Linked DNA regions of Homo sapiens. The protein of the gene in region 4 purifies or fractionates together with the protein of the main gene of each other region. This does not show direct contact. Each region holds a gene or a part of one and is shown on either strand. Other genes may lie near its edges.

Region 1 (7,025 bases), on a different chromosome or scaffold from region 4:
TTAAAGGCAGTGCATCTGGAGTTGTTCGTTCCCTCCGGTGGGTTCGTGGTCTTCCTGGCTTCAGGAGTGAAGCTGCAGACCTTCGCGGTGAGTGTTACGGTTCATGAAGATAGCATGTCCAGAGTTGTTCCTTCCTCCCGTCAGGAGTTGTTCTTCCCTCCCAGTGGGTTCATGGTCTCGCTGGCTTCAGGAGTGAAGCTGCAGACCTTCTCGGTGAGTGTCACAGCTCATAAAGGCGGCGCGGACCCAAAGAGTGAGCACCAGCAAGATTTAGTGCGAAGAGCAAAAGAACAAAGCTTCCACAGCATGGAAGGGGACCCCAGCGTGTTGCCGCTGCTGGCTTGGGTGGCCTGCTTTTATTCCCTTATCTGGCTCCACCCACCTCCCACCGATTGGTCCATTTTACACAGAGCTGATTGGTCCGTTTTGACAGGGTGCTGATTAGTATGTTTACAAACCTTCAGCTAAACACAGAGTGCTGATTGGTGCATTTACAATACTTTAGCTAGACACAAAAGTTCTCCAAGTCCCCACTAGATTAGCTAGACACAGAGCACTGATTGGTGCGTTTACAAACCTTGAGCTAGACACGGGTGCTGCTGACTGGTGCGTTTACAAACCTTGAGCTAGACACACGTGCTGCTGACTGGTGCGTTTACAAACCTTGAGCTAGACACACAGTGCTGATTGGTGCGTTTACAAACCTTTAGCTAGACACAGACTGCTGATTGGTGTGTTTACAAACCTTTAGCTAGACAGAAAAGTTCTCCAAGTCCCCACCCGACCCAGAAGCCCAGCCGGCTTCACCTCTCAATGGTGGGACTTCACGGCACCTAGCCCGGGCACTCCGGCAGCCCAGAGGAAGCTCGTCCCAGATCAAGCCCAGCAGGCGCCAGCCACAGCACCGGCTCCCGCCCACGCCTCTCCCTCCACACCTCTCTGCGAGCAGAGGGAGCCGGCTCTGGCCTCGGCCAGCCCCAGAGAGAGGCCCCCACAGCGCAGCAGCTGGCTGAAGGGCTCCTCCAGCGTGGCCAGAGCGGACGCCGAGGAGGCGCCGAGAGCAAGCGAGGGCTGCCAGCACGTTGTCACCTCTCACCTCCACGCCCAGCTAATTTTTGTACTTTTAGTATAGACAGGGTTTCACCATGTTGGTCAGGATGGTCTTGATCTCTTGACCTCATGATCCGCCCGCCTGGGCCTCCCAAAGTGCTGGGATTAGAGGCCTGAGCCACCGTGCCTGGCCTGCATATTTTTAAGGTTCACACACGTTATAACATGAATCAGTAACTCACTTCCTTTTATTGCCAAATAATATTCCATTGCAGGAATGGACCACATTGTGTTTATCCGTTCATCCGCTGATGGACATTTAGGTTGTCTCCACTTTCTGGCTGTTGTGAACACTCATGGACAAGCTTCTGCGTGGACGTGTATATTTCCAGTCACTCAACCAAAAGAACACACAAAAGGTGAACCAGTTTCCAACTGAGACATTCATTTAATTTGACCTACTATATTATTTAAAATATAGAGAGATGAGATAATTAGGAGAAATAAATGACCAAAGGAAGTGCAGAAATAAAGACACTAAGAGACAAGAGCAAACCCTGATGTGACGGAATAAACGGTGATTGAAGAAAGAGATGCTATTTCTAGGATGGGTCCTACAGGTACATTTGCAAAACACTGTGCCTATAGCCTTGCTGGTAACAGCATGAAAATTCCACAGCACCTCCATACAGCCAAATACAGTGCGGCCATGGAAAGAATGTACCGGAAAATGTACTGATATGGAAAGATCTCTCAAACATAGTTGAAAAAGGCAAGGTTCAGAAACTTTTTAAAAAGAAAAGGGTAAGGAAAAAAACAGAATACATACACTTGTTTGCTTGCAAAGTTACAAAGTATCTCTAGAAGGATACACAAGAAGCTGGTCCAGCAAAGCTTCCAGGGGAACCAGGTTCCAGGGTAGAGACTAGGAGGCTTCACTGAGCTCCCTTTGTACTTTTGAACCACGTATATTATCTGCTCAAAAATGTTAAACAAAATTGAAACTTTCTAGGAAGCAAAAATAGAGAATCTGTGAGAATCAAGACATTTACACTTAGGAAAGCAAGTTACAAGAGAGGCCCAGGAAGATGGAAGCAGCCGACGTGGGAAATGTGTCAACGAGTCCCTCCCCCTGCTGCGCCAGCCATTCTCTGAGGGCAACTCCCCATCCTAAACCCAATCATCTTTACTGAAGCCAGTGCTCAAAGAAAATGTTGCAATCTGCAGCAAGACATTCAGAACACAAACAGCCAAGTGCCATGGCTCATGTCTACAATCCTGGCACTTTCGGAGGCCGAGGTGGGAGGATCACTTGAGCCCAGGAGATGGAGGCTGCACTGAGCTGTGATCATACCACTGCACTCCAGCCTGGACAACCCACCCTGACTCTCTCTCTAAAAAAAAAAAAAGAAAATACAAATGTATCTGCTGCCCTCAAGGACTTCCCAGTCTAGAGGGGAGAAAATATTATGTGATTGTGCAGTGACCAAAAGCACCACCTAGAGCACTACGAGAGGGGGTGGAGCACCTGAGGACAAGGCAGCGATCCAGGAGGCGCTCCCACAGACATTACCTGAGTCTGAGTCAAAGGGCTGAAGGAACCAGTGAGCTTGGCTTAGTTTTGGAAGGAGGGACGCCAAGAAAGACTTGGCCCATGACCACATGGCAGTTTTTCTGGAGAGCAGAGTAGGTTGGGGTCACGCAGCGCTGTGGAGCATGGTCCAGGAGGCACTGGGGAGCCAGGGAGGAGAGCCAGGCAGCAGAGTCACTCGCCTAGACGCTCTGAGCCTGGCGCCATCCTGTGCACTGTAGGATTTCAACAGCATCCCCAGCCTCCACAAATCCTTGGCCATCCCCTCCTAGTTGGGACAACCAAAAATGTCTCCAAATATTGCCAAATGTGGCAGGAGGGCGGGGAGTGGTGTCAGAATCACCCCTGGGGAGATCACTGCCCTGTTTATATCATCTGAGCAGCTATGTGGCAGAGACAGGGGAGTGGCTCAAGGCTGGGGCAGGAGAGCCCCAGGAGGTACAGCGTAGTGCAGGAGGGACATGGTGCAGGTCCCACTCAGGCAGGGGTTCTGATCACTGTTCAGGGGGAACTGGCAAGAGGACCTGGAGCCGTACCACATGGCAGCTGAGAGGGGGACCCAGCACGCCAAAATTCTAGGTGGTGACCAAGCAGGTGAAGGTCCCAAAGCCCCAAAGGGTTGAGGCCAGAAGTGAATGTGGGTGCTGAGTCTGAGCCGCCTCAGGGGCTCTCGCGCATGGTGGCCGGCTCCAGCGTCCAGCATCTGCGGCTGAGGGGAGACATCCAGCTGCACCTTCAGTCATGGTGAGATGGCCCAGACAGCAGGTACGGGCTCCTCAGCTCTGCTCAGCACAGCGTCCGAGCAGGGGCTCACCTTCCCCATAGGAGGCTGTACGTCACACCCTGCTTTGGTCCGTGGACCCTGAGATGCCAGTCCAGGATGGTGCCGGAAAAGACACTAGGTTTCTGCCACTCTCTTGCCATAAAAACAGCATGTGCCACATAAGGCCTGGTCCTGGATCTGGAAATGAAGACTCTTGGAAAAGAGTCACAAGCAAACGAAACGCGGGCAGGAATCAGCCTCTGCTGCTGTGAGCGCTGCAGTGCTGGGGTTGCTACTGCAACTCGCTCTGGAGAAAGCTGTCCAGTAAACTCCTGGATTTGGATTTCTTCCTTCACCAACCCATCCTACAGAACATTGCCAATTAAATCTCCCTAAACCATTAATCAGGACATCCCCTGCTCACAAAGCTGCCTGCGGTGGCTCCCGGTTAGCTAGAAAATTAAAATCTAGGCCGGGCGCAGTGTCTCACGCCTGTAATCCCAGCACTTTGGGAGGCCAAGGCGGGCGGATCACGAGGTCAGGAGATCGAGACCATCCTGGCTAACACAGTGAAACCCCGTGTCTACTAAAAACACAAAAAATTAGCCGGGCATGGTGGTAGGCACCTGTAGTCCCAGTTACTTGGGAGGCTGAGGCAGGAGAATGGCGTGAACCCAGGATGCGGAGCTTGCAGTGAGTCGAGATCGCGCCGCCGCACTCCAGCCTGGACGACAGAGCAAGACTCCATCTCAAAAACAAAAAGAAAATTAAAATCTAAAGCCTTTAACTGGAATTCAAAGACCTTCTCATTATGACCCTTATCTCCCATTATTCCTTACACAACCTTTAAACCGCTAGAAACCACACATAACCAACCTTCTCACCTTTGCTCCCAAAATGTGAAAATACTTCTGTCTGCAGTGCTATGTCCCTACTCTTCCCTCTTCATATCCCACTGAGTACGGTTCAGCTAGAAGACCACCTCGTCTTGAAGCCTCCCTTCACTGCTGCAGCCCCCTGCAATTATCTCCCCTTTAAACTTCTAAAGCAAACTTTTCTGTAAATGGCCCAGATAACAAAGGGTTTAGGCTTTGCGGGCCGCACAGCCTCTGCACAAGGAGTCAGTTCAGCCAGAGCGGCCATGGACAATACAGAAAACACAGAAATAAGCAGGCGCAGCTGTTGAATAAAACCTCATTTACAAAAACACGCAGAGGAGTCTGCCAGGGGGCTGCAGTGTACTGACCCCTGGTCTGGAGTACGGGTTAGGCCTTTAATCACAGAAGGACTCATATCCGTAGCAGATTTTTTCTTTTTAAGTTCCCCGAAAGCATGTCTGTGGCACTACAATGTACGTACAACTGAGCATAAATTAGATGTTCGATTTTAAAACTACAAAACAATACTTGGAAAACACTTGCATACAAAATTGAAAAAAAAATTATTAATGCTAAATATTATGGTTTTCCCACAGAAATCCAAAAACTCAAAAGAAAAGGAGGGGAAAGCCACACTAAATGTTGCACCAAGAAAAATTCCACCCAATGGATCATAATAGCGGCCACTAATCTCTTTTCACAATACACGAACTATGTCAAAGACTGGTACGAGTTTCATAACAAGATTATCAATGGAGGGGGGTGCTATTTCATGTTAACAAAACTCAGATATATGATAATAAAATTACTTTGTCACCATCACATTTCAGGGGGTTAGCAGGATGGCAGGCACCAGTGACCAACACGAGTTTTAGGGAAGACTACCCCTGCAAAATCCTGGTCTCAGGTGTCTTGATACCAAACACAGCAGAAGTGGCAGAGGAGTTGGCGTGCAGACCAGCTGAGGAGGAGGATCACAGCAGGTGGAAACAGTGTGGCCAGGGTATGGAAGTCAGGGTCAGACTCAACCTCAGGGCACAGCAAAGACTTGTCAGATAAACTTGGGAACAAGTCTAAGTGGCAGATGAAAGACACAACGAGGCAAGCACAGTGGCAGCAGAGACAGCCAGTGTCAGAGGGTAAGGATTTCACTTGTTGAAGCAAGAAAGGTAACGAGAAGGGACAGGAGACAGGCCAGGCAGGGTAGTCCAGCTCTGCGAGGGAGTCTGTCCAGCTCTGCGAGGGAGTCTGCTCCACAGGCTGAACACCAGAGTCTACTCTTTTGAGCCATGCCTTGTGGTGTCTTTACAGGACACCTGCAAAGCTAACTGTGAGACGGATCGCATAAGGTCTATGACGCAGGACCTTGAGTCAACGAAGAGGCACAGCAGAGGGGCTTTGCTAGTAGAAGTAGGTGTTTCAATATAAGAGCGTATTTCATGGACTTTTTTTCAACAGCACCAAAGAAGCCAGTACAAGCCTACCAGGAGGCTGCATTCTCTGAACTACTATTGATAAATTGTTCAAGGACATGCCAACTCTCCATGTAGCATGTAGCTTCCACAGCCCATCCCAGCAGAGAGGTAGGAGACAAAACTGGGATGGGCATTTAAAAATCTATCTTAGGCTATTTGTGTTACCACTATCTAAACATTAAATATTCTCACTTTAAAGGTCACAAATCTCAAAACACTCTACTAAAGGTGGAAGGGTTTTCCCTAATCTTTGTGTCACACAATATGAAGGTGATGAGATGCGATTTTCTAAGGTAAAGCTAAGATACAGAGGGAAGAGGTGACCAGACTTGAGGAGGACCATCTCCTTGAGAAATATGGGGAATCTTTCCACTATGTTCTGAAACAAGTTAAATCTTACTTCTCGGCCGGGTGCGGTGGCACACGCCTGTAATCCAAGCACTTTGGGAGGCCGAGGCGGGCAGATCACGAGGTCAGGAGATCGAGACCATCCTGGCTAACACGGTGAAACCCCGTCTCTACTAAAAATACAAAAAAATTAGCCGGGCGTGGTGGCGGGAGGCTGAGGCAGGAGAATGGCGTGAACTTGGGAGGCGGAGCTTACAGCAAGCCGAGATCTCGCCACTGCACTGCAGCCTGGGTGACAGAGCAAGACTCTATCTCAAAAAAAAAAAAAAAAAAAAAAAGGCCGGGCGCGGTGGCTCACTCCTGTAATCCCAGCACTTTGGGAGGCTGAGGCGGGTGGATCACGAGGTCAGGAGATCGAGACCATCTTGGCTAACATGGTGAAACCCTGTTTCTACTAAAAATACAAAAAATTAGCCAGGCGTGGTGGCAGGTGCCTGTAGTCCCAGCTACTCGGGAGGCTGAGGCAGGAGAATGGTGTGAACCCAGGAGGCGGAGCTTGCAGTGAGCCGAGATCACGCCACTGCACTCCAGCCTGGGCAACAGAGCAAGACTCTGTCTCAAAAAAAAAAAAAAAAAAAAAATTCTTACTTCTCACAACAGCTTAGCAGGCAGAATGTTACACTGCTGGTGATTCCACCTTCTCACTTTCTGTTATGTCCTCCCTGTCACTTAACGTTTATTTTAATAAATCACCGTTTCTGTTGCAAGGATAATACTGAGAAGTATAACAACAATGGCAGGCTGGGCACAGTGACTCATGCCTGTAATCCCAATACTTTGGGAAGCCAAGGCAAGTGGATCACTTGAGCTCAGGAGTTTGAGACCAATCTGGGTGACATGGCAAAACACATCTCTACAAA
Region 2 (7,025 bases), on a different chromosome or scaffold from region 4:
CCTCGCAGAGAGGAATGCACAGAGAGGTCACAGAAAGCAGCGTACCAGGAGTCAGACCTAGGCAGTCTGGTGTCTAAGGCTATACTCTAAATTATTGAGTTAAATGATCTAATAAAATGTATATTAAGCATATACAATAAAACTTGGAAGTAAACGTGTTGACTGCTAAGCTACACAAACGTTATTTAGTACTATTATCTGTATTTCCTTTCATTTCCTTATCACTAACCAGTATTTTTTTAAACCACCACAAAATCAAGTTCTCTGTTAGAATTTGCCTTCATTTTTAAATATTCAGTAAGCATTATGGCCCAATTATGTAATATGTCTAAAGAAATTTTGCTGGCAGGGTGCGGTGGCTCACGCCTGTAATCCCAGCACTTAAAGAGGCAGAGGAGGGCAGATCACTTGAGCTCAGGGGTTCAAGACCGGCCTGGGCAACATGGCAAAACCCTATCTCTACAAAAAATACAAAAATTAGCCAGGTGTGGTGGCACATGCCTGTAGTCCCAGCTATTCAGGAGGCTGAGGTGGGAGGATCACTTGAGCCCAGGAGGTTGAGGCTGCAGTGAGCCCTGATCATGCCACGGCAATCCAGCATGGGCAGCAGAGTGAGACCGTTTTGGTTTTTTTTTAAATTGCGCACTCTTTTTTCACTGGGTCCATTTCATCTAGCAATGAAATCTACATTAAGGGGAAAAATCACTATTCCTGTACGATAACCCGCTTAAGTTCAACAAGAAAACTTTATTATTTAAGAATTTCTTTATAAAACTGAACTATATGTTCATGCATTATAATTCCAGGAAACTAAAGAACATAAAATTACCTTTAAAAGCTAATGTGGAGAATTTCAGGGGAAAATCAGTATTAACTTATAGTTTTATTATTGATATAAAAGAAAACTTCAAATACTGTACAGTAAGGTGTGCTGTAGAACACTATAATACACTATTACCAATTATTCATTACTCAAATGTAATATATACAGTAATCACGAAATCGGAAAATAATGGGCAACAGCCAGTGCCTTAAGGGTGAAATAACATCTATACTATTTTATTGAGCAGTTAAAGCACTTGCTATTTTTCTAAATATTTACACTATTACTGCTTATGTTTACAAATTCTAAGTATCATTTCCCTCCAAAAAGTAGACTTTCCAGTTCTTGGCACTAATTCTTAGTCAAATAAGCCTGAAAATACTGGCAACCTTTTCAGTCTTGCATTGCTCTACCACAGGCATAATAAGGGCTCAGGACGAGATTTCTGCATTCTAAAGAAAAGTAGGCAATACCTTAAAAATTTAAAAACTAAGTAATTGATACTCACAAGCAGGTAACATCAACTAAAACTTTTTTCTTTACTAATTTTTCCTTTTCTTTTACAAGAGAATAATCATTAATATTATACTACAAAAGCATGTAGTCTCCATAATTAAAAAATTAAATGTCAGATATACAAGTAATGGCATTTTCTCCAATAATTCATAATTTTTACAATTTCTGCTATTTTGGAACAAACATTAAAATTCCCACGATTTAAGTATCATTAAATATGAACTGAAACACTTAGCATCTCAAAGAATTATCAAGAATGGTAGAACTTGTAATTAACTCTATAACTTACATGGGTGATATAGTTCCCCTTTGTTGTTTTATTTCTTAAATATACATTCTACTAAGGAATATTTTCATGTGAACAGCTCTGGTTTGAAAAATTAATTTATACTGTGAAGAGCCTTAAGGTTGTACAATTTTGTTAAATTATATGATAACCTTGAATGGTAGGATGCATTTACTCAACTTAGAATATGGCGCTATTATTATTATAAATGGTGGTTTTTAATTCACATTAAGATAGGTGGAATTTAATCCAATTTTGCAAAGGCTTTGTGTTTATAAAAATCTTAAGATGGAAACCTTGCTTTGAGAACCATAAAACTCAAAATCTGTGTAGTATTTTAAGTATGAACCAATTGAAATTACTGTTGAAAAATGAAGACAAAACTGTATTGATATTCTGAAATAAACACTTTATGCTGCCACTATATTGACCAGTTGAAGTGTAATTAATGACAGAAGTAAATTTTTTACCTAAAGGTTAGTTATTAGTGAGGTCTACATATTTAGAGAGTTATTCAGTAGCAGATAGTATTGGTAGGTAACTACATAAAACAATACTTTTATACATTTTGCATTTAGTAGCTAACATGTGATGTCAGTACAATTCTCAAAAACCTGTCATTAGTAGTATGAGTTGCTAGCAAGTGATCTTCCCTGAGGTAAGAGACCATATGCAAAAGTCAGTGTTCATCTCCAATGAAGATACTTAAAAATAATGGCAATAAGGACCTGTGGCCAGGAATTACAGATGCATTTCAGATTGATATCTTAATTGCAAGCAGTAGGCTTGACTGTAAAAACCAAACTAAAAATCACTGGAAGACACAGAGCCAGTATCAGTCAATAGCATTTGCTAACTTTCTCAGGCCTCTACCCTAACATTTTCCAATAAAAATATCTGAAACAGAGTGAAGCGGGAGAAATGGGTTTGCTCTTTAACTAGTTCCTGAGTAACCATTCTCATGGAGTTAATTATATTCTATCTTAATATATGGCAGCATCTTGTTTTCTTCAATTTACAACAATTTCTCATTACCAGTATTCTAGATACATACTATCTTCAACACTACCTGGACTTTAGGTCATCAACTTAAATTTGGTATGATTAACTATAAAATGGATTACTGAAGAAAAAATTTACAACTTTATTTCAATGTTTAGTGAAGCACTGCAAACAGAATTGCAGGAATGCATTTTAGTTATAATGTTACCTCTAGGGCTAAAAAAAAAAAAAAAAACAAATTTACCTGAGATGTCTAGCTTGCACGCCAAGATGTGGCTATATCACAAATGGCAGTACTAGAAAAATAACCATGCTATAGTCATGTATTTGGTTATGAAAACCATATGGAAAGACAAAGGATGATATTTAAAAACTTAAAAGAAACCCTATTCTAAAACTTCTTTGTGAGGATACCTGGCCTACTTCTCAAAAACCATCAATTCACCCCAACCAAATTTTCAGCTGATTTGAAAGAATTTCAAGAAATTTGATCACTTATCAGAATTGAGCCTTTTATTCATTTATCAAGGGAGAACCCAAACTATTACTGTACTATTCATACCTAACTGGCTTTTAAATAGCATTGCTGTAGCTAGAGAAATTAATAAAGTTGTCAGAGATTAAGTCCATCTTCTAACATTCACATACGCATTCCAATTTGCACTAAATGTAAGAATAGGGAGATAAAGTTTGTTTCTGGTATTTTATGTTAATGCTATGAGATATCTGTCAGTTATCAATGAAGAAAATATTTGTTAAAGAAGATTATATCATTTTACATGAAAGCAGTGCATTTTTTGCTTAAACAGTTTTCCTGTATTTAAATCCCCCCAAAAAAAGTTCCAGTGGCTGAAAAAGCCAAAAATAATTATAGTGGTTAGTGAAGTGATATTTGTAATTCGTAGTTTAATACACAGAAGCCACCTTTACTAAGTAGTAAATAGTATTTGGTAGCTACAGCTCTTATTTTATGCAAAAATAGTGTACAATATAAAAGTTTAAAAATTTCCTGCTGTTTTGATAGGGAGAAAATTTAGGATGAAGATAAAATATAAAGACAAACGTGATAATGTGATAAAAACTAACCCAAATATATATTTTGCTCAGATACACCTGTAAAATGTCTAGATTCTCCATTCTTTCCTTATTTAAAATAGAGTAGTTTGTTTAAGAAGTGGATTCAGTTAGAGATACTTTCACAGAAAGATGACCAAAATCTGCCTTATCTGGAAACACAAGTTAAAGTACTGTCTATATCCCTTATGAATCAACAGGCAGAGATTTTTAAACATCTGATAAAATACTTTCTGACATACATTTTCTTAGAATTACAAACACAGTTCTGCATCTGTTACATGTGCAAACAGAGACAGCCAGGCTTTGAATGCTCTAGGTAAGAGATTGTATTAACATATATTTTGTCTTTCAGCCATTCAAATTCAACTTAATTTCAGTGAACAGAGAAGAATATGGGTTGAAATGTACACTTCAGGATACAGATTTGCAGAATAAAATAAAATAGTGCAATACCAATCTCAGGATAAACACTCTTCTGTTGTTTTTAAGGAATAAGCATGAAAGCTGCTTCTCAAGGAAACTGGCACTGAAGATTTGATGAATACACTAAGCAAATACCCAGCTGATCAGGGTGTGATGCAGTAAAATTTGCATCTAAACCCAAGTGAAGCCAACAAATAAACTCTTATGGATTCTGAAAAAAAAAAAAAAATTTTGGCTCAAAGGGGCATAAATACACTTAGCATATACAGGCTTAAATACCACTGATCAAAATTGTAGAACAATTAACTCATTCATAAAGATAAACTCTTATTTATAAATTCTCTACTGCTACCATTATTTCTTTTTCTACCACACTTTGCAATCAACTTTTCTGCAAGATTAAAAAAAAAAAAATCAGGTTGTTCTTGACCAAGCCAGGAATCAAAAATAATGGTAACATATTAATAGAGCACACACAATTGGCTGTGGCTCAGACAGCAACACAACTGAATCACATTGACCTCATCAATCTAGAAGAAATTTTTCCCCAATCTTGCACAAATCAGCAAAATGTTATATCGTTACATTCTATTCTCAAGATATTTTCGCCAAGAAATCTCTATGAATGTGTTTACGTTCATAGAAACATTTGCATTCCACTGTCTAATAAATAATTGTATGAATTTTAAGATACAATTTAGTTCAGATAAAATTCAAGTTTACATAAACCTTTTGACACTAGTATATGAGATGGTTACCTTGATGACATCAACATTAGCACAATCTCATTTCCCCTCCATTTGTAGGCTTTTCAGAAATCAAACGTATTTAAGTAAGAGAATTTTCATGTTGGAAACATTAAGACTTTCATGGAATTAAAATTACAAAGAACTTCCAATGAACCACATATATGGAAGAAAGTCATCTCAGCAGATCTAACAGCTAATTTATAGAAATTCAGAGCCAGCCTGGGCAGCAGTATATTAAAAGCTATGGCCAATCACACACTTGCTATCATGCACTGAATAACAAGATATAATCTTTGAATTATATACGTACAAGATTTTTAATGACTAATCAAGTTACGTGGCCCAGCCAACAAATATTACATATTCACAATAAACATTCTGCCTTTATTAGCCTCTAATTAAATCAAGAGTGATCCATTGGCTCAGTTGTGTTAGTCATCTCAGCATCTTGACTATCCATCTCTTCAAGCTCCTCCACGGAATTTCCCCTTTGTGCTTTTGACCTTGTGGCAAAGGCTGCTCCCAGTGCATCTGCTACACAGCCATCAGTTGTTTCTGTATTCAAATTTTCAGTACCACCAGTTAAAGGAAAAGATTCAGGCAAACCAGTCTGAAGACTCCCAGACTTTGCAGAAGAACTCACAACTTCTGTTTTCCTTTGAGGAAGATCAGATGGTGACTGCTCTGTACTTTGATCCCGAAGGTGCCTGTCCATTGAAGCCTGAATAGAAGAAACCATTTCCTGCAATTTTTTTCGCTGGGCCTCAACCAAATCAGGATCAAGCTGCCTGCCGTCTCTCATTGTTACTACTCCAGGAGCTATTCGAATAAGCTCACTATTACTAGAAGAAGCTGTGAATACAGAAGGCTCTGTTTTAGTGGAACTATTACTAAAGTCTGTCCCTGTATTATGCTTTCTTACAACTGAAGTTTCCCTAGCTCTTGGATCAAGGTGTGGGTTACCAGATGCAGTTCCTAAAGAATGCCCTTTTCCCTGAAAGGCAGTTACGTTATGAAGTTGCTCAGATTTCTTTTTCACTACTCCACCACTACCTAGTTTTAATAGCCCATGTGAGGGACTTGATTCCCTACTTCTTGTAGTAGCCTCTGCTCGAACCTGACTTACAGCCTCTTTAACTAAATCTTCAACATCAGGACCAATGGGGAAATGTCCTGCAGCATCCACACACAATTCCAGTCTATCTTCAGAAGCATTATAGACAAAGGTTTTGCCAGGCAGATGTGGAAAAGTACAATGCTTGCCATCAGCCATACCTAAAAAGGGGAAAAGATATTTAACATATTAAAATCTTAAGGTATTAATAAAAGTGTAGTCAAGACAATTATAGTTAAAATAATGAATTTTAAATAACAATTTACAGATAACAGCTTTCAAAACAAAATTCATTCAGATTTATTGTATTACAAAAAAGAACCACCGCCATAGACCCTAAAGTAGTTCTCCCCAGAGAATCTTTTTTAAAAAAATTTTTTTGCTATCTTAACTAACAGCAAAGTTAAGAATGGGGCTTGAGGTCACACAGTGGCTCACACATGTAAACCCAGCACTTTGGGAGGCTAAGGCAGGTGGATCACCTGAGGTCAGGAGCTCGAGACCAGCCTGGCCAACGTGGTGAAACCCCAACTCTACTGAGAATACACAAAATTAGCTGGGCATGGCAGCAGGCGCCTGTAATCCCAGCTACTTGGGAGGCTGAGGCAGGAGACTCACTTGAACCTGGGAGGCAGAGGTTGCAGTGAGCTGAGATTGCGGCACTGCACTCCAGCCTGGACAATAAGAGTGAAACTCTATCTCAAAAAAAAAAAAAAAAAAAAGAATGGAGCTTGAGGCCAGGTGCAGTGGCTCATGCATATAATCCCAGCACTTTGGGAGGCAGACAGGTGGATCACTTGAGGTCAGGAGTTCAAGACCAGCCTGGCCAAAATGTTGAAACCCAGTCTCTACTAAAAATACAAAAATTAGCTGGGCATGGTGGTGTGTGAGCCTGTAGTCCCAGCTACTGGGGAGGCTGAGGCAGGAGAATTGCTTGAACCCAGGAGGCGGAGGTTGCAGTGAGCCAAGATGGCGCCGCTATACCACTATACTCCAACCTGGGTGACAAAGCAAGACTCCATCTCAAAAAAAAAA
Region 3 (6,990 bases), on a different chromosome or scaffold from region 4:
GTCCACCACCTGGGTCCACCTCCCCACAGACCTCCCCTGCTGCCATTCAAGGGCCACCTTGGTGAGATGCCCCGGCCCCCACCAGCCACCTCAGACTCTGGGATCTCTCTGTCCTCCTCGCCCCTCCCCCACTCTCAACAGGGGTTGTGAAACAGGTGGGGTTGGGCCCAGGGGTGACTGACACATAAGACCTGCAGGACAGCCTGAAGAGGGTGGCATGCCCCGCACCCAGGCAGAGGGGCAGCGGCTGGTGTGTCAGGGGTGCCCTGAGGAGTTTCTTGTTTGCCCTGCGCTCATGGTTTAGCCACAGCCCAGCATGGCACTGTCCAGAGAGGCCATGGCCCTGTCATGCCTCCCATGTTCCAAGAAGCATCTGGCTCCTGGAGGGCTGCTCCTTCCTTTCCCCCAACCCCTCACCCTCCTGTCTCCAGGGCACCCTCCCTCCCCCATGTGACCACGCCCTGGACGGAAGCCCTGCTGGGATCCCAGTGACCCTTGGTTTAGAAGATGCAGACGGTGTCAAACTCTGCTTTATTGGAATAGAGAATACAGGCAGCAGGAATCACGCTTGGTGCTGGCAGCTCCAGGTCCCCTGCCCCCACGGGCTCTCCCACTTGTCTGGATCAGGGGAGACCTCCACTTTGAAGAACAATATGGGGTGGGAGCTTCCAATGTGCATTCTGCTACCAGCCTCAGGATTAGCAGCAAGATGCCAACAGCAACAGCAACAGCAACAGCAACAGCAACAGCAACAAAGGACTGGACTCGACACTTCAGGAAAGGACGTGTAGAAGAGAAAGTCAGACCCACAGTGTCACGTGTTAACAACGGTCCCACAACAGCAGACACGACACTGGTGTGCACGGCTGTACCACCTGTGGGAGGCTGACAGCACACCGACAGCCCTGAGGGGCCCGGCATTCTCACTCCCAACATGAGAAAGAATTAACACAACACACACACATGTTCACATTCTCTGCGAGGACAGTCAAATTAAGGTACCAAAGGGAGGATAAAACATTTTTAGAGAACACAAAAGCCTGCTGCCCTGCCCCAGTAGGCGTCAGGCTGGACACGACAGGCTGGCTGTGGCCTGGGCTAGCCGGTGAGCTCGACAGGCAGCTCACGGCCACACAGGGCCTCCCACTGGCGAGCCAACAGCGAGATGAGCTTCTCTCTGCTCTCAGCACTGGGGACAAACACCTGCCACTGGACTTCACGGCCCTGGCTGGCTCTAGCCGGGCCACCTGGCACCTCCCCAAAGTGGTCCAGGGTGACACTGCCCATGAGGTCATGACCTTGCACGTCATCGAAGACGAGGGTGAGGGCCTGCGGGTAGGTCTGGTAGCCCATGAGCACTCGGTCCAGGTCCCGGACGCGGCGGCCATCGTCCAGCCGGTACCTGTCTCTCTGCGGCGGCTCTTTGGCAAACTCGGGCAGTGGGTAGTGGACACAGTCCTCATCCAGGAGGAAGATCTCGGAGCTGGTGAGCAGGAGTGTCTTGGGGCGCAGGGGGCCCCTGCAGCACCCAGGGGGTGGCATGCCCACCTGGAAGGCCTGCACGTACAGCAGGATGCTGAGGGCTGGGGCCTTCTCTGGCTCAGCCATCTTTTGGGCCACAGTGAACGTCAGGTCCCCAATCTCCTCCTCACTGGGGTAGGTAAACTTGACGCGACTAGAGTGGATCAGCTCGTAGTTCTCCATCTTCCCTGCAGAGAGATGCCACCTGGGCTATAGCCTGGAACCGGCCCCTGGTGGGGCTGGGAGCACCAAGGGCCCCAAGCCAACCGAGAGACCCCGGCATGAGACAGGCAGGAGAGGATGCTCCAAGTGTGGGGCCCACAGGCCAGGAGCCCAAAGCAGGCACTGGAGATGTGTCTGCCAGATGGTTGAGGGACTGCTGGAGTGGAGACTCTGCCATCGAAAAGCCCCACATAAAACCCTGGCCAGCTAAGTGAGAAAAGAGAGACATAGAGGCAGAGAGGGTTCTGGGGCACAGAGAGCCACCCTGGGGCCCATGACGTCTGTCCAGGCAGCCTGTCTGCAGCCTGAGCTAGACAGGGGTACCTGTGGTCTTGTTCCCAAACTCGGAGTAGAAGTCCTTGTCAACAGGCTCCGGCGAGGGCGTGCGTTCCAGAGAGGACAGCACGACCATGAGGTGCTGGAGGAAGCAGTGCGTCAGGTAGCTGTCCCGCGTCAAGCACGTGACCACCTGCATCGGGGTGGAACCTGCACGAGAAGGGGCTGGTCAGGGCCACAGGCCGGCGCTCCCCAGCCCTATCCCTGCCCCTTAGAGCCACCCCGAGTCCCTAGCAAGCCTCAGCCCAGAGGCCAGGGCCAGGAGGGCCCACACAGGAAAGAATCATGGGGCCCGGGAGGAGGCCATTCCTTCAGGCCGGAAGAGCTGAGGCATTTTTCTGGAAGGGGAGACAGAGACATTAGGCAAAGAGCTTAGCTTTCTCTCCTCAGGAAATGTGAGTCAGAAACATCCTGCCCGAGACCAGGGCCCACTCTGCTTCTGTCCGGGCCAGCGCTTGCCGCACACCCTACCTCCTGCTCTGAGCCCTGGAGCGTGAGTTCTGCTCTCTCAGCAGTTCCTGAAGCTGCTTCCTCCCACCCCGGTTAAGAAGTGGCTCTTGAGCACAGAGATAACTGTCTATGATAACCCACCCACGTACGGAAGGTGGAAGCCCACTGGTGATGCTGGCCTTCACCCGAAATAGGACAAAGCACAGAGGGTCACCCACCCGTCAGCCGGAAATGCTGGTCGAAAAGCCCCACATTGACTGACTGCAGGTCACTAAGCTTTAGCACGAAGCACTGGGAGATGTGGAAAGGGCTGTTGTTGTAGTCGGTGTTTTTCTGATGCCAGAAATCTGTGTGATGGAGAAAGGGACAGAGGGAGGCGGTGGCAGGCAAGCACAAGGTTCCTAGGTGTGCAGCACATCCAGCAGGAACAGGTCCTCTTGGCTGGCCTGGCTTCCACCCGTGCAAAGCCCCATAGGCAATGCCCTCTGGAGTCGGAGCCTCTTCCAGCTCAGGGGAGTCACCAGGTCGCTGGCTAGGGCTTCCTGTGCAGCCCCAGGGGCAAAGGCTGCCTAACCCCTTCTCATCACTGGCTGTTCCCAAGCAGTCACCAGGCCCTGGCTCAGTGCATTCTGCGTTCACATCTGGCCATGGACCCCTCCCTCATGACAGCTCCCTTCCTCAGACAAGGAACTCTCAGCCCACTGCAGCCAAGTCGCTGACTGCTGCCTGAAGCCACACAGCTGGCTCCAGAGAATGACCCCCCAGGCCTGCCCCAACCACACACTCCAAGCTCCTGAGCCCCAGCAGGCCCTGTGCCTACCCTGCAGTGGCTCTGAGAAGTAGCGGCGGAGGCCGTCGTGGAGCACAAAGTACACAGCCTTGGTGGAGAGCAGCACGCAGGCAGTCACCTCCAGCCCTGGGGTCTGGTAGAACACCACCGAGGACCACATGAGGTGCCTCAGCTCCTCGTTTTCAACCTGAAGACGGGGGGCCTCCTGTCAGCTCCACCACCCTAGCAACCTGCACATACCAGGGACATGCCCACAGCTTCCACAAGGAGACATGGGAAGCCCCTCTTGGCTCACCAATGAATCCGTATGCTTCAAGGCAGAGAGGAAGAGAGGGGTGGGAGATGGCTGTTGGTGGGAGGTCTACCTGGGGCTGGAAGTGGCACAGGAGGTGGTGACACAGCACAAATGGCCAGGGGAGGGCAACTCAGGACCTCACTGCCCAGGTCCTCAAAGCTGTGAGCAGCTCAGCTGAGGACTCCGACATCAGGGAAGTCCAGGGACCTGAGGCTGACCTGAAGCCAAGCTTGGCCTCGCCCTCAGGACTGGCCGTGCCATAGCTGGCACCCACACCCGGGCCGCTACCTCAGCAATGCTGCTGTGGAAGAGCTCGATGATGGCGCTGCCCCGCAGGCTGGCGACGTGCCGGAGCGACGGGCAGGCAGGCAAGTGCGAGGGGATCTGATTCTCCTCCGAGGTGGCCTGGATGAGGTGCTCACTCGGGTACTGGGCAGGGGCCTCGGCTGGGGGTGGGGCTGGAGCTTCCACTGGCGTCTCCTCTGGGACCAAAGCTGAAGTTGAGGCCTCTGCTGGGGCCGGAGTCTTCGCTGGGCCTGAGGCTGAGGCTGCTGCAGGGGCTGGAGCTGGGACTTCCGCTGGGGCCGGGGCCAGAGCCTCTGCTGGGACCTCCTGGGGACGCTGGTCATTGCTGTATCCCCCGAAAAACACCATATTAACAGCGGACCCCAAATGAAGATTCACATCGCATGTGCAGCTTCAGAGTGAGGAGACTGTGTGCATCACACATCACCTCTGGGTTACTGGGGACTTCCACCAGCTTCTCTATTGGAGAACAGAACAGCACGGCCGGGCACGGTGGCTCATGTCTGTAATCCCAGCACTTTGGGAGGCTGAGGCGGAGGATTGTTTGAGCCCAAAGTTTGAGACCAGCCTGAACAACACAGCAAGATGTTGAGGTGGGTGAAGCCTAAGGCAGATCCTGGCCCACAGAGCCATCCGTGGGACTGTGACCCTGGAGGAGGTAGTGCCCAGAGGCCATGCTTGGGCCCAGAGGAGCACAGCAGCCAGGGTGACAGCTCTCCTGGCCTCGGTGTGCTGCAGCCTGTTGCTCTCCCACTGGGCAGGCAAAGGTGGGGCAGCCCCCTTGGCCTGCCCTTCATGGGTGGCAAGAGGCTGGGCCAACCCATTTTGTGAGAGGACAGCTTTCCTGGGCTTCTTCTACAGCACTGAGATAAGGAGCAGCCTGGCACCAAACCTGGGGTGGTGATGTAGAGGGAGGCCCGGGGGGGGCGAGGGGCAGGGGGGGAGGGGGCCCAGCTCTCGCAGCAACTCCCAGCCCACACTAGCCGCAGATGCTGAGATCACACACATGCCAGACCCATGCCCCCGGGGCCCCTGAGAGCTGTGCTTGATCTCACCTGGCCCTGCGCTCGGCAGGCTGGCCATCCGCAAAGGAGCCCTGGGGGCTGCCTCCCGTCCCGGGGGTCTTGGCGATGACCACAGTCTTCAGGTCCTGCAGCGAGGCCCGCAGCTGGTTGTAGACGCGCAGGAAGTGGAACTTCTCGTGGGGCAGCACGAAGATGGCAGTGACAAAGCGGTACCCCACGAGCAGCTCTAGCACGTGGCCATCAGCAAAGGCGCCCCGAGGCTGGGTACAGCTGCGTGTGGGGTCCAGCAGCACGGTGGAGAGCGGCACACGGCTGAGCTTGAAGCTGTTGCGGTTGCGACAGTTGTGGGTGCCACGGTTGGGCATGGGGTTGAAGTCGGCCTTGATGACGTTGAGGTGCTGGGGCGTGAGCAACAGCCAGTAGGGGATGGCGGCGGACTTGACGGCCTCAGAGGGCGCGCAGCAGGAGCGCCGCACGGCTGAACAGAGTGTGCAGCTGGCCCACTCGATGTTGCCTGAGTAGTCCCCGGCGGCCGTCTGCACCATGCGCTTGTCACTGTAGACCAGGTAGACGGGGAAGCAGCCCTGGCTGCGCTCCTGGCAGCCGCCAGCCACCTTGTAGAAGGTGAGCAGCTGGCGCAGGAACTCCTGCAGGCTGGTGTGGCTGCCGTAGAGGATGGGGCTACACAGCATGGCCATGTGCTGGGGTGCAAAGCATGAGCGCAGGTCCGCGTGGAACTCGTGCAGGTTGGCGGCGTCCGAGATAATGAAGAGCGTGTTCTCACTGTGCCGTACCTTGAGCACCAGACACAGCTCCGGCATGAGGAAGCCAAACTCGGTGAGGTCGCCATGCGGGAAGCAAAAGACAAAGCGCAGGGAGGAGAGGATGTGCTGGCTGCTGCCCCGAGACTCCTGGTGCGGGATCTCGAAGACTGCGATGCCGAAGTCGGTGAGCACAAGGCAGGCGGCGAACTGGCGGATACTGCCCTGCACATGGATCAGGAAGCACCACAGCACCTTGAGGATGCGGATGTGCTCCAGCAGGAAGTCCTCGTCCGCGCCCAGGGCCCATTCCAGAGCCAGGCGCTCCTCCTCGGCCTCTTCATCCTCCTCTTCCTCCTCCTCTTCCTCCCCCTGGCCTCCTCCCTCCTCCTCCTCCACGTCTGGGGGCCCCATTTCAAAGTAGCGGTTCTCAGCCACGTCCTCCTCTTCTTCCTCCTCCTCATCCTCCTCCTCGCCCTGTTCACCCTGGCCCTCCTCCCGCTGGTTGGCAGCCTCGATCCAGGCAGGCAGCTGCCGCTCGATGGCCTGCCGGATCAGTGTGCTCAGGCGCTGGATGAAGTCCTGATTGGTGGCCGTGTAGCCAATGCAGGTGAAGGGCAGGAAGATGATCTGGCCAGACCCCGGCACCACCTGGACCTCCGGCTCGGCATGTTCTGGGCTGTGCAGGGAGAGGCCAGGTCAGTGGCATGCTGGGAGGGGCCCCTCCCACCTCCCACCTGCCACATCTGGAGCCCACTGCTACACCCTGACCCTGAGAAACCAACCCATGGGTCTCCCAAGCCTCCCACATGGCCAAGTCAGTTCCCAGGATGAGGGCCCTGGTGGGAGCCAGTGCTGCCTGCTGGAAGGCTGGGTCGCCAGTTTGGTCAGAGTCTATGCTTCTAGGGGCTTGGACCATAGGTGCCTGGCACAGCTATGCCCAGACCACACGAGTTCCCACAACAGAAGCACTCCCATGGACTTCTAAGTCATTCAGTTGCTGCCATAAGCCCCGGAGAGAAGGAACACTCCAGGGCATGAATCTACTTGTCACCCCTGGTGGCCTCCGGGGCAGGGAAGTGGGCTGGGGCAGGTCTTAGGACCTTCACACTTAAATTCCAGCTCTTCTTGGCCACCGCAGCCCTCACATGTAGAGTGGGAGTTAGTAAGCTTCTGTAAAGGGTCAGAGTACACATTTTGGGATTTATGGGCTACCATGTCCATACGATCTTCAGCAGCCCTTTAAGAATGTAACTGTCCAACATGGCGAAATCCTGTCCCTAC
Region 4 (7,025 bases):
AGCTATAGTTTCTAAAGCAAACATTAGGATAGTCTTTCAGTAGGGCAAAATATTTTAAGTCAGATACACCAGTTTCTTTACTCAAATACTTTAAAAGTTTTCACATAGAAAGCTTTCTAATTTCTACATCTTATTGATTCGCATTCTAAGGAACTGCTTTGCTTTAATAAACAACCATATTTGCCCTTCTGATCCCAGGTTTAAAAATGTTCAATCAGCCATTTGATGTCAAAGAAAACAAAGTAGGCTAAGTCCAATTTCACAAAAACTCTATTCATAGATGAATAAACAGCTTCAGAAACTAGCCGCAGCAAAAAGTGCCAGAAAATAACAATGATGTGAACAAGGCAGAAAGACAGAGGGCGCTCTCTATTCTAAATGACCATCATACTTGGCCAGAGAGGAGCCAGGGGCAGAGGAGAGCATCTACCTTAGCCCTGGCAGGAGGGGAAAGAATGAGCAGACATCCCAACTTCAAATATAATGTTTACATTACTGAGATTGGAAGCTGTCAATGACCCAACTGTAACTAGAACTTGGCTTCACAAAGGCTGAAACTGCCAACACCTGAATCCAAGACACCATCGCCTCCAGAATACTGCAATGCCTTCCAGCTGGATTTCCTGAATTCATTTCTGCTCAAAAACCCTGACTGATCTTTCAACACACAGATCAAATACTGTCACTCTCTGCTTTCCACCGTAACTATTAAAAAATAAAAATAAAAAATTGCACCTCCCTGACCACGACTTGTAAGAACCTACATGATCTGGCCTCTGTGTGTCTCTCTCACCTGCTCTTCACCCATCACCCCCACCCTCGCTCTCATGACCCCACCACAACTTCCTTTTCTCAAACTCTCCAAGCCGGTTCGCACCTCAGGGCCTTTGCATGAGTTATTCCCTCTCCTAGAATGCCCTTCTCCCTAATTTTCTGATGGCTGGTTCCTTCCTACCATTCATGCCTAAATGTCACCTCTGAAAGGCTTTCTGATGACGTCATCCAAAGGAGTCCCCCACCCAGTCCCTCTCCTTCACCTCTCTGCTTTATTTTCTGATTTATGCTTATCAGTAGAAATTTTCTTATCATCTGTTTTGTGGTTGGTGGTGGCGTTTGTCACCCACACATCTACCACACTAAAGCCGGGACTATGGATTCCCAGCACTTAGAACAATACCTAAAACCGAGAAGATTCCCCTAAGAACAGGGGGAAAGCGTCCAAGGAAACAATGAGAAGACCGAAGACGGACTTGATTTAACTTACCTCCTGTATAACAACAAAAGGGTGAATGGAATTGTCATAAATTATTAATAAGCACATGAAGGGTGACAATCAGCCACAACAATATTAAACATTTAAATAAAAATATCCCAATTACACCACCAGTTAACTTGAGTTATTATTGATCATGAATAATAAGTGGGTAAACACATACGCCATACGTTATGCAAGGGGCTTTCCCTGTATTTCCTCTTTTAATTCCACACATATGCCATACGTTATGCAAAGGGCTTTCCCTATATTTCTTCTTTTTTTTTTTTTGAGATGGAGTTTTGCTCTTGTCGCCCAGGTTGGAGTGCAGTGGCACGATCTCAGCTCACTGCAACCTCTGCCTCCCGGGTTCAAGAGATTCTCCTGCCTCAGTCTCCTGAGTAGCTGGGATTACAGGTGCCCACCACCATGCCCAGCTAATTTTTTTTTTTTTTTTTTAGTAGAGACGGGGTTTCACCATGTTGGCCAGGCTGGTCTCAAACTCCTGACCTCAGGTGATCCACCCACCTCGGCCTCCCAAAGTGCTGGGATTACAGGCGTGAGCCACCACACCCAGCCTCCCACACTTGTTGGTTAGGAAGGAACTAGAAGGCACCACCTGGATAGAGCAGAAACCAGGGACGGGACAGGACCACAGAACAGAAGCCTGTGAGGCCTGGTCCCAGCTCCTCACCTCTGGACCTTGGACAATTCATTTCACTTCCAAAAGCCTCCTCCATGCTGCTCATCTGCAGTGGAAACTGCCTTCCTGTGCATCTCCAGGCTTCAGAAGAGTCAAATGAGAACAAATGCAGAAGTGCCCTCAGAGCTCATGAAAATAACATCTGATTTTTTCACTTAAAGCTTACATAATGGGTAAGCCAGTGATGACACGCCAGAAATAGCATAAATGAGAGGAAAGAGAGAAAGCAAGGCAAGAACGCTCAGGTCCGGGAGCTAGAAGACAACACGCTGGGTGAAAAGAGAGGCAGTGACACAGGCATGGGGACACAGACGGGAGGGCCCCTCTCGCTTCCTCACAATAAGGGGAATGCACGAAGGAGCCGGAGCAGGAGTTGTCACTTGCCAATCTCCATGGATAAAGGATGGAGCTACCCCAGTCTCAGCGCAACTCATATATTTGTGCCAAGTTTTTAGAACTGCCATGGTTATTTATTCCTGAAATGACATTTGGTGTCATTTCCCATCAACAATAAAATCTCCACCAAAAGTCAGTTAAGTGTGGTAAACCCCGTGTGGTCACCAACTATAGGATAGTGTGACTAGCCAAAAGCCCATCTCATCCTCCTAGGTCCTACTGAGGATCCTGAGAACAAACTTCAACCACAGTGACCACTGACCACCCCACAACTCCCTTCTTACTACTTGTGTTAAAGATTTTTTTTTAAAGGGGGGCAGGGGTTGGTCCTGAGCATGGTGGCTCCCATCTGTAATTCCAACACTTTGGGAGACCGAGCCGGGAGGATCACTGCAGACCAGGAGTTCCAGACCAGCCTGGGCAATACCACAAGACCCATCTCTACAAAGATTTTTTTTTTAATTAGCCAGGTGTAGTGGCATGTGCCTGTGGTCCCAGCTACTTGGGAGGATGACACAGGATGATCACTCAAGCCTCAAGCCCTGGAGTTTGAGGCTAAAATGAGCTATGATCGTACCACTGCTTTCTAACCTGGGCAAGAGAGCAAGACCCTGCCTCTTATTTAAAAAAAAAAAAAAGGCTGTTATAAGAACTCTTCAAGGAATAAGGAAGAAATCTCAAGGGAAATGTCTCACTTATTTTGCTAAGAATTGCCTGATGCTGTTGCTAGGTGGTGCTTATAAATATAAGCACACACCGTAAGACTGGTTTTTTACTTTAATTAGTGGCAAAGACAAGCCTTCTCAAATTAAGTGTCATCATTCCAGAATGTAAATAAAACAGCTGGAGTACATACCAGACCAGATAGCCCAATACTACAATAGCAGGACTCTAGCAAAGTTTGAAAACACATTTGCAGCTACGTGCTAGAACAGTGCTTCTCTAATTGTGATGGGTGCACGAATCGCCAGGGGATCTTATTAAAATGCAGATTCTGATTCGGCAGGCCCAAGCTTCTGCATCTCTAACAAGCTCCCAGGTGATGCTGAAGTTGCTGGTCACAGACCAGGTACCAGACAGGGGCCAACAGTTGACAGCAAAAACCATCCTATGCCATGCTCACTGCAAGCCCAGGTACTATTTTTTAAAAGTGAGGAAATATGGCTCAAACTAATTTACCCAAGGAAAGCTCACGAAATTTGCAAGAGGCATTTATCACTCCGCTAATCAAGAACCTTCCTGATCAGCTGCAAGTTCTGCCCCGGATCCTCTGACCAGCTGGTAAACGGCAGAGAAATCTCTTTGACACTGACAGGTGCCCCTGGATGATAAGAATACACCTTATGAAAGACTTCACTGCTCAGAGAAAACAGTTTGTGTCCTGGAGCTATAGGAAAAAGGAAGAGAGAAAGCAATAAAAACAAGGAGTAGAAATGTATGGAGAGCTTACATAAGATCACACAGTCAAAAGCAGAACTGGGATACAAACTGAGTCCGGCTCCAGAGCCCATGCTCTGAACCATTCAGCTCCACCCCCTGGTACAAGTAATCAAAGTGACAAAGTGATGGAGTACAGGAGAGCCCCAAGGAGACCACAACTACTAATTAGGGGACCCTGAGCAAATTCTCTCTCTGCTTCAGTTTCTTTAATATGGGCTGGAAATTATTCAAACACCTCACTGGGTTTTCTAAGGATGAAATCAAAGAGGCTGGACAGGTGCAATGTCTCACATTTGTAATCCCAGCACTCTGGGAGGCCGAGGTGGGAGGATCACTTGAGCTCAGGACAAGATCAGCCTGGGCAACAGAGTGAGACCCCATCTCTGTATTAAAAAATAATAAGTAAAGAAGTTTTATAATGAGAGAGCCTAAATAAACACTTAGAACAGCGTCTGCCAAGATAATAAGTGCATCAATCAATGTTTTTCTGTTATTAAGAGAATTTTATCACTGGAGTGCAGGAGAGTGAATGGAACCAAGGAGAGGGTGGAATGAAGAGCTTTTCTGAACTATGGCCAAATGGTAGACCTACGGCTGCTAAAACAAAAAGGCCTCCCTTTCCCAGGGACCACAGAGACTAAAAGAGAAGGTATAACCTAAACTGGAATCAAGGTAACAGAAAGAACTGCCTCTGTCTGGACGGTGGCAGGAAGGGCCTAACAGTGCAAGGTAGTACATTGCAGTTGACCTGTGATGTATCAGATCTCTGTAGTTAACTTGGAAATTCCAGACTTTCCATGGCCAAATAGTCAAGCACCTTAAGACTGCTATGTGTCATAAACAAATAGACACGACAGGGAAAGAGCAAGTCCCGTGGCTTAGACCTTGAGCAAGAAAGCCCCCTTTTCTCTTGGTTGGTGATGGGGACTGCTACCAACACTAGCAGCACCAGAAGCTGGCCAGAGAGACTTCTGTCCTGGGACCAAAGGTGGGTTTTAGAGATGTGCTGACTCAACTACACAATTTTATTATTATTATTATTTTTTTTTTTTTTTTTTTGAGACAGAGTCTCACTCTGTCGCCTAGGCTGGAGTGCAGTGGCACGATCTCGGCTCACTGCAGCCTCCGCCTCCCGGGTTCATGCCATTCTCCTGCCTCAGCCTCCCGAGTAGCTGGGACTACAGGCGCCCACCACCACACCCGGCTAATTTTTTTTGTATTTTTTAGTAGAGATGGGGTTTCACCATGTTGGTCAGGATGGTCTCGATCTCCTGACCTTGTGATCCGCCCACCTCGGCCTCCCAAAGTGCTGGGATTACAGGCGTGAGCCACCGCGCCTGGCCAACTACACAATTGTTGAGAGCCTACCCACTCGAGGCTGATCAACAGCCAAGGCTAGGACAGTTCTGCTGGGACAACCAGTCCCACGTCTTCCTCGTCGAAGGCACTCCCCAGTGGCCTTTTTAAAGCAGAAAAACGACTTGTGGTAGCTGCATTTGACAATGAAATTTCTCATATTTAAATCAAGCTTAGAGAAAAGGACCTCATATAAGTTCAGATTTTGACCTAAGAAGGTTGGACAGGAATGAAGATATAATGCTTTTTCTAAAACAGGGCTGGATATAAGTAGGGAATGTGGCACATGTGTACTCTGAGAACTGAGCTATGAAAATCAGTGCATGTAAATCCCTGTTGCCTGCCTACCAATATCTATTCTCCCCTTTTTCCTTTCTGACCAAACTCCAAGTTTTTTTCAGGGCCACAATGTACCAAACTTAAAAAAAAAGAAAGGAAGGGAAAAAGCAAAAAAGGAAGAAGAAATGAAAAGGAAAAGAAAGGAAAAGAGAGGAAAGGGGAGGAAGGAGGTAGTGAGGGAGGGAGGAAAGAGAAAGAAGAAAAGAAACAAAAGAAGGAAAAAGAAAGAAATTACAGCAACCAGCCTTCCCTGCTGCATGAGGTGGCCATGTGACATTTCTGGCACCTGAGATGTAAACCAGGTCACTTGACAGTTTTTCAAAGAACTCTTTAAAGGGGAAGACTTGGCTGCTACCTGTCTTCTGTCTTCCATGAGACTCCCTTCTGCCTGGAATAGGAAGACAATCATGCAGGAGCCGCCACCTTGCACTGAAGCATTAAGTATGAAAATGAACACCATGTGCCAGGCCATACCCTACGCCATGTGCTACGAATGGCTGAACAAGATGGCAGCGCCATGGAACCCCAATTTGGTTAACCCACTGGGTTTTCTGTTATGTGCGGCTAACCCTACACGTTGTAAAAGATCATTTGCTTTGCAAAGGCCTTTACTGAACTGACTGGCAAGGCGCCATGAACTAGGAATTAATTTGACTTACAAATAACTTTCTGACATGAACTAAAGATAGAGAATAACACAGACATATACTGGATGAGACTCCTCCGCTACCATATGCTATTCAGACCGAATCCTGAAGTTCTATTCATAAATGTAAAGATTGTCGGTGTGGTCTAGATGTGGCCTTGGGAAGAAACTCCTGAGAAAATGGAGTGGAGTGAAGCCAAACCACCTGCTCTGCTGGGTGACATCGGTCAATCTGTGTGTGACTCGGTTTCCTCAACTGCAAAATGGAAATAACTGTTCCTACCTCAAAGGTGGTGGTGCCTATTAAATGAGCTGATATTTGTACAATGCTTAGACATGTGCCTGACACACTGCTTAATAATTACTGAGGATCCACTAACATTACGGTAAAATTGGTGACAGTGTAGCTAAACATTAATAATAAAAGCCAGACAGGTTAATTCATTCTGTAGACAAGAACTTCTTTCCTAAGGCACACATCTGTCAAATAACAAGGAGGTGAGATCCAGCTGTCGACTGTGGCCAGGTTTAGACAGTTTTAAATCTAAGGCCTTCTATGGTTCTCATAATCGCCCTACCCAGATTCATGCAATACCAAGAGTAGCAAAGTCTACATGAAGAGCTGCTTATCAGTAGCATGTATTTATAAAATAAAGGTTGGGTAAAGAGATTAGCAAAGAGCACTAAAAATAGTCCTATAAGCAGACGAGCTTTTGTAAGTCGATAGTTCATTAAAAAGTCAATACTTGAGCATCATTATTATGAGAAATATTCAAGTAATGGGTCACGCAACTTGGAAGATTGCAGCCTCTTATCATCTTAGCCATCTTTTTTAGATTCGAACACAGAACGTATCCAGGTCTTTCTACTAAGCTGTATTTCAGGGTCCAAAA

The links.
Region 1: the proteins of CNKSR3 (region 4) and ARHGAP39 purify together in Homo sapiens (affinity purification with mass spectrometry; 3 studies listed by BioGRID and IntAct, with this or other methods). This does not show direct contact.
Region 2: the proteins of CNKSR3 (region 4) and VCPIP1 purify together in Homo sapiens (co-immunoprecipitation; 3 studies listed by BioGRID and IntAct, with this or other methods). This does not show direct contact.
Region 3: the proteins of CNKSR3 (region 4) and NISCH purify together in Homo sapiens (co-immunoprecipitation; 3 studies listed by BioGRID and IntAct, with this or other methods). This does not show direct contact.

The regions. Positions count from the first base shown.
Region 1 is NC_000008.11:144,675,825-144,682,849, forward strand, and holds part of ARHGAP39 (rho GTPase-activating protein 39), read right to left. Parts: intron 1-7,025.
Region 2 is NC_000008.11:66,629,222-66,636,246, forward strand, and holds part of VCPIP1 (deubiquitinating protein VCPIP1), read right to left. Parts: intron 6,152-7,025; coding exon 5,280-6,151; 3' UTR 1-5,279. UniProt on the Homo sapiens protein: Deubiquitinating enzyme involved in DNA repair and reassembly of the Golgi apparatus and the endoplasmic reticulum following mitosis. Necessary for VCP-mediated reassembly of Golgi stacks after mitosis.
Region 3 is NC_000003.12:52,486,591-52,493,580, reverse strand, and holds the end of NISCH (nischarin), read right to left. Parts: intron 6,386-6,990; coding exon 4,976-6,385; intron 4,246-4,975; coding exon 3,903-4,245; intron 3,507-3,902; coding exon 3,350-3,506; intron 2,877-3,349; coding exon 2,748-2,876; intron 2,230-2,747; coding exon 2,068-2,229; intron 1,710-2,067; coding exon 1,099-1,709; 3' UTR 513-1,098; downstream 1-512. UniProt on the Homo sapiens protein: Acts either as the functional imidazoline-1 receptor (I1R) candidate or as a membrane-associated mediator of the I1R signaling.
Region 4 is NC_000006.12:154,500,666-154,507,690, forward strand, and holds part of CNKSR3 (connector enhancer of kinase suppressor of ras 3), read right to left. Parts: intron 1-7,025. UniProt on the Homo sapiens protein: Involved in transepithelial sodium transport. Regulates aldosterone-induced and epithelial sodium channel (ENaC)-mediated sodium transport through regulation of ENaC cell surface expression.